2 linked regions of the Homo sapiens genome follow. The protein of the gene in region 1 interacts with the protein of each later gene in a pairwise test. Each region holds a gene or a part of one and is shown in the gene's direction. Other genes may lie near its edges.

The links. The genes of interacting proteins can lie anywhere in the genome.
Region 2: the proteins of NCKIPSD (region 1) and PSMD9 interact in binary tests that used the Homo sapiens proteins (3 or more experiments, as listed by UniProt).

The regions. Positions count from the first base shown.
Region 1 is NC_000003.12:48,673,336-48,675,954, reverse strand, and holds the end of NCKIPSD (NCK-interacting protein with SH3 domain), read left to right. Parts: intron 1-1,207; coding exon 1,208-1,411; 3' UTR 1,412-2,111; downstream 2,112-2,619. UniProt on the Homo sapiens protein: Has an important role in stress fiber formation induced by active diaphanous protein homolog 1 (DRF1). Induces microspike formation, in vivo. In vitro, stimulates N-WASP-induced ARP2/3 complex activation in the absence of CDC42.
Region 2 is NC_000012.12:121,891,790-121,898,836, forward strand, and holds part of PSMD9 (26S proteasome non-ATPase regulatory subunit 9), read left to right. Parts: intron 1-2,949; coding exon 2,950-3,052; intron 3,053-7,047. UniProt on the Homo sapiens protein: Acts as a chaperone during the assembly of the 26S proteasome, specifically of the base subcomplex of the PA700/19S regulatory complex (RC).

The DNA.
Region 1 (2,619 bases):
ATTTCTCTAATTAAAGGTAAAAAGAGAAATGAGGGATGTTGAGGGAAGCAGACATCAGGTCAGTGGACTGGGGGTCTCTGTGAGAACAAGCTGTCAAGTCATAAGGGCTGGCCGGGCGTGGTGGTTCACGCCTGTAATCCCAGCACTTTGGGAGGCCGAGGTGGGTGGATCACTTGAAGTCTGGAGTTTGAAACCAGCCTGGCCAACATGGCGAAACCCCGTCTCTTCTTAAAAAAAATACAAAAATTAGCCAGGCATTTTGGCACATGCCTGTAATCCCAGCTATTTGGGAGGCTGAGGCAGGAGAATCACTTGAATCCAGGAGTCAGAGGTTGCAGTGAGCCAAGATCATGCCACTGCACTCCAGCCTGGGTGACAGCACGAGACCCTGTCTCAAAAAAAAAAATGATATATATATATATATATCATATATATATATATATATGATATATATATATAGATCATAAGGGCTGTTGGAACTGGTTCAGCCAGAGGTGTTGGGAGTATAGGTTGGAGGAGAGGCTGTTGGAGATGAATTTGGGGCATATGTAGGAGGTAGGATGGCCAGGTCTTAGACATGGCTTGGATATGAGGTATGTGGGAGACAAGAAGCAAAGAGGACACCATATTTCAGGCCTGTGCTTTTGAATCGGCAACAGTGCTCTTTCTAAAGGTAAGAACATGAGAAAACCTTCAACTCTGGGAGGATGGGAAAGATCATGAGTTTGGTGGTAGATATGTGGATTTGAGGTCTGTCACATGTGCAGGAGATGTCAAGTGGGCAGTTGAATATTCTTGTCTGGAGCTCACAGGGGAGTTCTAGGTAAGAGGTATGAGAGTGGTTCACTATTTGAAGCTGTGAATGTGCACGAGGTCTTCCAGGGTAAGAGAGGATAGGGTGAGAAGCAGAGGGCCTCTGACTGATAGACAGAGGCACCTTGAGAGACCCAGCTTCAAAGGATGGGCAGGACTTCCCTGGGCAGGCCACATACTTGGGGCTGTCTGTGGCTGGGATGATTCGTTTATTCGCTTACTCAAAAACTATTGAAGACCAATTCTGTGCCAGGTATATTGTGGGTGCTGGGGATGCAGCCCTGATGTTCAGGTCCACAGCCCTGGGGTCTGTGGGACAGTGGGGTCCTGTCCCTGTCCAGTGGTGGTTGCAGTACCTCCCTGGGGTCCCTGAGCTGGCCTGCTCTTCCCACAGCTGCGCATGGAGTACCTCTCCCTGATGCATGCTATAGTCCGCACCACACCCTACCTGCAGCACCGCCACCGGCTACCCGACCTGCAGGCCATACTGCGACGCATCCTGAATGAGGAGGAGACCTCACCCCAGTGCCAGATGGACCGCATGATTGTCCGAGAGATGTGCAAGGAATTCCTGGTGCTGGGGGAGGCTCCCAGCTAGCACCTTGCTGTCCTCCCTTCCCTGCAGCTCCAGTCAGTGTGCAGGGGACTCAGGGGCTTGGCCCTAAGAATGTTTTGCACTGACAGTGGGAGGGGATAAGGTGGCAGAAGGAACCTGAGCAGGACCCCCACCTGAAGTAGAACTTAAGAGAGGGGCCAAGTGTAGGATTGGGGACCATGGTCTGGGAGCTGTTCTGGGGCAGGGGGAATATGCAAGCTAAAGCCCCTCTATACCCTGGTAGGCTTCCTCTTCAGCATGCCCCCCTCTTCACCCCACACCCATGTGTACACTCAGAGTCCTGCTGCCGCTCCAGGCTGGACCAGACCCCCATCCCCACCCCTCCTGGTCTGTATCCTGGGCCTCAGCAAGCCATGCCCCTGGGGTGAGGGGAGGCATCTCCCACCAGCTCTATTCTTTGCCTTAGCTTTGCAGTGAGTGCTGCTCATGTCCTCCCCTCCACCCGCACATGGGGGTCGCTGCCCTTCACTCCTACCCCCAGAGGCCTTGGCCAAGCTGCTGCTTTGAAAGCGGGATCTTGGAGACAGGCCATCCATCCTGGAGCCTCATGGAACAGGATGATGGCACTGAGAAAGCCAATGACCGAATCTCTTTTCTCTGTAAAAATGTAGACTGAAAAGCCATGTGTATTTTCCTATGTGCTGTAGCTCTCCTTTGGAAATAAATCACAGGCATCTGGAAACAGGCTTCCCTGTATGATCTTGGGAGACAGTGGGAGAGGATGGGCAGAAGTACTGGGGCCTCAGGACCCCATCACTGCAGCTTGCACTGACTTCTCCAGCCTGAGGAGGTGATGGACCCTGACAGGCCTGGCCTTCAAGGCCCTTTGAGCCCTGTTCTAGCCTCTCTTCCCTGAGCTCCACTTTTCCTGAGCCCCAGCCATAGCCAAGTGCCCCTCAGCAGCCCATTCGCAGGTGTCTGCATCTCCAGGCTTCACTTACACACTTACATCTTTCTTTTTCTCCTTTTTTTTTTTTTTGAGACAGTCTCACTCTGTTACCCAGGCTCACTGTAGCCTTGACCTCCCAGGCTCAAGTGATCCTCCTGCCTCAGCCTCCTGAGTAGCTGAAACTACAGTAGCCACCATGCCCAGCTAATTTAATTTTTTTTTTTTTTTTTGGTAGAGACAGGGTCCTACTATGTTGCTCAAGCAGGTCTCAAACACCTCAGTTCCGGTGATCCTCCTGCCT
Region 2 (7,047 bases), on another chromosome or scaffold:
CAGCTACCCGGGAGGCTGATGCAAGAGAATCACTTGAACCTGGGAGGCGGAGGTTGCAGTGAACCAAGACTGCACCACGACACTCCAGCCTGGGTGACAGAGATTCCATCTCAAAAAAAAAAAAAAAAAAAAAAAGAAGTGGACAGCTAAAACTATAAATCTCGTATAATAAAGCATAGGAGTAAATCTTCATGACCTTGGATTAGGCAAAGCCTTTTTAGATATGGCACCAAAAACACAAGCTACAAAAGAAAAAATGATAAGTTGGACTTCAACTTTAAAACTGTGTTTCAAAGGGCATAGTAAAATGAAAAGATAAGCTCCAGAATGGGAGAAAATATTTGCATATCATTTCTCTGATAAGAGGATAGTATCTAGACTATAATAAGAGCTCTTACAACTCAATAATAAAAAGACAGCCAATTAGAAGACAGGGAAAGGATCTGAATAAACATTTCTCCAAAGAAAATATGGTCAATACAAATGGTCAATGGCCAGGCGTGGTGGCTCATGCCTGTAATCCCAGGACTTTGGGAGTCTGAGGCAGGAGGATCACTTGAGGCCAGGGGTTTGAGACTAGCCTGGGCAACACAGTAAGAGCCTATCTTTACAAAAAATTCAAAATTAAAGGCCGGGCATGGTGGCTCATGCCTGTAATCCCAGCACTTTGGGAGGCCGAGGCTGGCAGATCACGAGGTCAGGAGATCGAGACCATCCTGGTTAACACGGTGAAACCCCGTCTCTACTAAAAATACAAAAAAATTAGCCGGGTGTGGTGGCAGACGCCTGTAGTCCCAGCTACTCGGGAGGCTGAGGCAGGAGAAGGGCCTGAACCCAGGAGGCGGAGCTTGCAGTGAGCCAAGATCTCGCCACTGTACTCTAGCCTGGGCAACAGAGCGAGACTCTGTCTTTAAAAAAAAAAAATTAAAAATTAAAAATTAGCCAGGTGTGATGACATGTGCCTGTGGTCCCAGCTACTTAGGAGGCTGAGACAGATCGCTTGAACCCAGGAGTTTAAGGCGGCAGTGAGCTATGAACACACCACTGCACCCGATCCTGGGCAACAGAAGATCTTGTCTCAAACCAATACAAACACAAAAGCCATTACCTTTTACACTTTACATGGGTCAGTTATATGGTATCTGAATTATATCTCAATAAAACTGTTATAAAAACAGAGGGTACTAGAGATAGCAAGTAACTGGGGTGTTGCAGAGACCAGCACCAAATGGACACTTTTGCCTTGACAATTGCAGGATTGTAGAGAATTGGGAGAGGAATATGTATTTTTGATTCAGGGTTATTTAATGCCGTGTGTGTGAGCTGCTAGTGTTATGGATCCCATCCTTTGAGAAGCATTATCCAATGTGATATTGATTCTCAAAGGCTGGTCAACCCTTAACCACTGTGGGAAGGCAGGAGCAGATACAGGTTTTTAGCCCCTGGCGCATTTCTGCAGTGTCACGGCGAGTCCTGTGTTAGGGGAGTGTGGAGAACTATCTCCCTGCGCAGTGGACAGTAGGTTTGGGTGTAACCCGGAGGCTTCCAGAGAGAAAGGGAGCAAAATGAATGGAATCCCTCTTCTCAGTGCCTGTGTACACTGGCAGCTTGTCCCTGGACTGACTAATCCTTACAGCCACTATTTATGACTTCTGCGCGTAGTCGTTTTCTGAGGCCACCTTAACACCACAGAGTTGGTGACTTAAAACAGGAATTTACTTTGTCCCAGCTCTGGAGGCCAGAAGTCTGAAATCAAGGTGTCAGCAGGGTTGGCTCCTTCTGCAGGCTCTGAGAGAGAAGCTCCCAAGCCTTTCTCCTGGCCTCTGGTGACTGCTGGCGGTCCTTGGCCTACAGCTGTGTCACTTGAACCTCTGCCTGCATCTTCATGTGGCCTTCCTCCTGTGTCTGTCCCACACCTACCTCTGCCTTTCTTTTATGAGGACACCAGCCACCAGATGAGCTTATCTCGAGATCCTTAACATAATTACATCTACAAAGACTCTTTTTCAAATAAAGTCATATTTACAGGTTCTGGGGGTTAGCTCGTGGTTATCTGTTTTTGGGGGCCGCTCTTCAACCCACTATGCTGTGTATGCGCGTGGCATGTGCTAAGTACTCTGCAGGTCAGCTCGTTAGTTCTTGCAGCAGGTAGGGAGGGAGGCGAGTGCTCCTATTCCCATTTTATAATTGAGGAAGCTGAGGCTTAGAGAGGAGAAGGTCTCAGCTAAGGATGCCCAGCTTGTACATGGCAGAGTTGAGATTCAAATTAAAGTCTAACCAATTGCAAAGCCCCTCCCCTGAACCATGTGACTGGTTTCACTGCTTTTGTGTACTCTCCTCTGACTCATGTTAAAAAAAAAAAAAGTGTTGTTTTGAATAAAGAATACATTCCCATAGGCAAAATTCAAAACCTACAGAGGGGTATAAAATGGACTGTCTCTCTCCCTGCCCTGTCACCTAGCCACCCAGTTCTTCTCCCCGGAGGCAGCTGGTGCTATCAGTTTCCTTCTTCAGATCTTTTTATTTTCAGAAGAATCAAAGCCCTGCCACAGCTGGGTGCTGTCTGGGCTTTTCACTCCCCTCTAGCTTCCAGGGCCAGCAGCCAGGTGTCAGCCACCTGTGGGAAGGAGGGTGTGAAGGAGTGGAGGAAGAGGCTGGCCTTGGGGATGATGCTCAAAGGAGTCTTTGGTTTTATCGGCACTGTTTTAACTTCAAAAAAGAATGGATTCATGCATTACTTGCGTCGTTAAAAATAAAAAATGAAAAACACAGTGCCCACCCCAGGGTAGTTGTGAGGGCATGAGTAGAGCCCCTGGTGTAAGTGATCAGTATGTGGCAGTTTTCATTACTGTCACCTTTATTATGACTTCAGAGGAGAAGGGTCTGGGGAAAGACATCCTGGGGACATTACACCCATGAGCACCTTTTAACCACGTTTCTTTCCTCCAGCAAAAAGGCATTGGGATGAACGAGCCGCTGGTGGACTGTGAGGGCTACCCCCGGTCAGACGTGGACCTGTACCAAGTCCGCACCGCCAGGCACAACATCATATGTGAGTGGCCCTCTTAGAAGACTTTCCCCACCTTGTGGTGGGAAGGTGTTAAAGGCATACAAATAAAACCAACTATCTGTATTATCTACTGCCTTCTCTTCTGCCTTGATGGGATTGTCTTGTCCCCATCCAAGGACTGAGAACCAAGGGAATGGGCTAGACTCTAAGGTTCTATATTTCTGGTTTCATTTTCTCTCTCTCTCTCTCTCTCTTTTTTTTTTGAGTCAGGGTCTTGCTCTGTCTTCCAGGCTGGAGTGCAGTGGTGCTAACATGACTCACTGCAGTCTCAACCCCCCAGGCTCCAAGTGCTCCTTCTGCCTCAGCCTCCCAAGTAGCTGGGACTATAGGCATGTGTCGCTGTGCCTGGCTAATTTTTTTTAGTAGAGACGAGTCTCACTAAGTGGCCCAGGTGAGTCTTGAACTCCTGGACTCAAGTGGTCCTCCTGCCTTGGCCTTCCAAGGTGCTGATTGTTTTTAATTAAAGAGCTAGCAGAGAGTACAGATTGGATAGTATATTTGTTTTCTGTTTCTGCCATAACAAATGACGTGATTTGTTTTTAATTAAAGAGCTAGCAGAGAGTACAGATTGGATAGTATATTTGTTTCTGTTTCTGCCATAACAAATGACCACAGACTTAGTAGCTGGAGATAAGAAGTCCAGATGGGTCTCACTGGACTAAAATCAAGGTGTTGGCAGGGCTGGCTCCTTCTGGAGGATCTAGGGGAGAACCTGTTCCTGGTCTTTTCTGGTTTCCAAAGGCTGCCCACCGTCCTTGGCTCATGGCTTCGTCCATCTACACAGCCAGCAGTCGCATTTCCCTCCCTCTGATTCTGTCATAACATCTCTTTCTCTCACTCTCCTGCCTCCCTCTTTCACCTATAAAGACCTCTGTGATGACACCAGGCCCACCTGGATAATCCAGGATCATGTCCGAATCTTAAGGTCCTTAATCACATCTGCAGAGCCTCTTTTGCCATGTAAGGTGGCATATTCCCAGCTTCTAGGGGCTAGGATGTGGATGTGTTGGGGGCCATTATCCACTCAGCCATAGGTAGGCAACCGTCTCCACCACAGAGTCCTATTAGCATTTATCCTCCACATTTTTCACTTACTAACTCCTCTTTAATCTGTTTGAATCTTGATTCCATCTGCATCACATCTTATTTATTTATTTATTTTTTGAGACGGAGTCTCGCTCTGTCACCCAGGTTGGAGTGCAGTGGCACGATCTTGGCTCACTGCAACTTCCACCTCCCGAGTGACAGAGCAAGAGACCGTCTCAAAAAAAAAAAAAAAATCTGTTTGAGCAATTCCTTATTGGTCTTTTTTTGAAAAATCTGTTCTCGGCCGGGTGCGGTGGCTCATGCCTGTAATCCCAGCACTTTGGGAAGCCAAGGCGGGCAGATCACCTGAGGTCAGGAGTTTGAGTCTAGCCTGACCAACATGGCAAAATCCTGTCTGTACTAAAAATAGAAAAATTAACTGGATGTGGTGGCACATGCCTGTAATTCCAGCTACTTGGGAGGCTGAGACAGGAGAATCACTTGAACCCAGGAGGCAGAGGTTGCAAAGAGCCGAGATTACACCACTGCACTCCACCCTGGGCGACAGAGCAAACAAAACTCTGTCTCAAAAAAAAGAAAGAAAATCTATTCTCAAAACAGCCCTTTTTAAAGAACAGTTATAGATTTACATAAAAATTGGAAAATAATGGCTGGGTGCGGTGGCTCACGCCTGTAATCCCAGCACACTGGGAGGCCGAGGTGGGCAGATCACCTGAGGTCGGGAGTTCGAGACCAGCCTGACCAACATGGAGAAACCCTGTCTCTACTAAAAATACAAAATTAGCTGGGCATGGTGGCACGAACCTGTAATCCCAGCTACTCAGGAGGTTGAGGCAGGAGAATCACTTGAACCCAGGAGGCGGAGGTTGCCGTGAGCCGAGATTGTGCCATTGCACTCCAGCCTGGGCAACAAGAGTGAAACTCTGTCTCAAAAAAAAAAAAAAAAAGAAAAGAAAAAAAAATTGGAAAATAATGCATAGGTCCTTTGGCTTCTGTATGTAATCTCCCGTGTTGTTAACAGCATATATACACATACATGTGTATATATCTACACATACATGTAAATATATACACACATACATGTGTATGTAAAATATACACATGCGTGTATATATGCAAAATACACATATGAGTGAATGACTCAGGCTGGGTGTAACCAAGATTTCACTTTTCTCTGAAATCCTCTAGAAGGAAAAATGCTGCATAAGCTGGGCACAGAGGCTCATGCCTGTAATCCCAGCACTTTGGGAGGCTGAGGCCTCCCAAATATATACACATGTGTATACACACAGGTTCAAGTGATTCTCCAGCCTTAGCTTCCCAAGTAGCTGGGATTACAGGTGCCCACCATCACACCGGACTAATTTTTTTTTTTTTTTTGAGATGGAATCTTGCTTAGCCACCTAGGCTGGAGTGCAGTGGCATGATCTCGGCTCACTCACTGCACTCACCATCTCCCGGGTTCAAGTGATTCTCCCATCTCAGCCTCCCAAGTAGCTGAGATTACAGGCATCCGCCATCGTGCCCGGCTAATTTTTATATTTTAGTAGAGACAGGGTTTCACCATGTTGGCCAGGCTGGTCTTGAACTCCTGACCTCAGGTGATCCGCCCGCCTCGGCCTCGACAGGCGTGAGCCACCATGCCTGGCCTAATTTTTTAGTAGTATTTTTTTAGTAGAGACGGGATTTCACCATGTTGGCCAGGCTGGTCTCCAACTCCTGACCTCAGGTGATCCGCCCGCCTCGGCCTCGACAGGCGTGAGCCACCATGCCTGGCCTAATTTTTTAGTAGTATTTTTTTAGTAGAGACGGGATTTCACCATGTTGGCCAGGCTGGTCTCGAACTCCTGACCTCAGGTGATCTGCCCGCCTCGGCCTCGCAAAGTGCTGGGATTACAGGCATGAGCCACCGCGCCCAGCTAACAGCTTATGTTAATATGGTACGTTTGTTATAATTGCAAATTTGTTTTTTGAAATACACTGCAGAAACATTTTGTACTGAAAAAAACCCTTTCAACATTTTGATTAGAATTGTAATATGTTGTAAATAGTCGTTCGTTCCATTCCCCAACAGCTGTGTATTGAGCACTTCCCTGTGCCAGGCATTGCAGAGTCTAGGGATGCTGTGGACCTCACTGGGGGAGGGCTTTTCTAGTGAAAGTGACCATGTATTATGTAAGTCTGCCTCCCAAGTGCATGTCTCCACTTGTTCAGATCTGGGTTCTTTTCCCACATCTGCTCCTGTGGGTTGAGAACTTGAATCCCTTCATGACTGAGGGTCTTGCCTTTGCTCCAAAGTGACAGTGGCAGAGGAGGCAGGTCAGGTAGTACCGCAATCCCACTGACAGGCACAAGGTATCAAAATACCAGCTGCTGTGCTGGCGTGGCCTGCAGATTGCCATGGTGGTTCACAACATTTTGAATTAGCTATCTGTACTGAAAAATCAGAGAATTTCACTTCAAAGATCCCAATTTTCAGCTTTTCTGGAAAAATCAAAGATTTTGTAGCATTGGGTCTTCCTCCCAAACCCAGCCAATTGGCAAGAGCCCTGTAGCAGGGGTGCCCTTTGGCCACCTCCCTGTGGACTCCCTCTCCTGGACTGAATGTCTCCAGGATTACTAGGCTTATGCAGCACTTTTTTTTTTTTTTTTTGAGACGAATTCTTGCTTTGTCGCCAGGCTGGAGGGCAGTGGTGCGATCTCGGCTCACTGCAACCTCCACCTCCTGGGTTCAAGTAATTCTCCTGCTTCAGCCTCCCAAGTAGCTGGGATTACAGGCACCCGCCACCACGCCCAGCTAATTTTTGTTTTTGTTTTGTTTTGTTTTGTTTTTGAGACGGAGTCTTGCTCTGTTGCCCAGGCTAGAGTGCAGTGGCGCGATCTCGGCTCACTGCAATCTCCGCCTCCCTGGTTCACGCCAATCTCCTGCC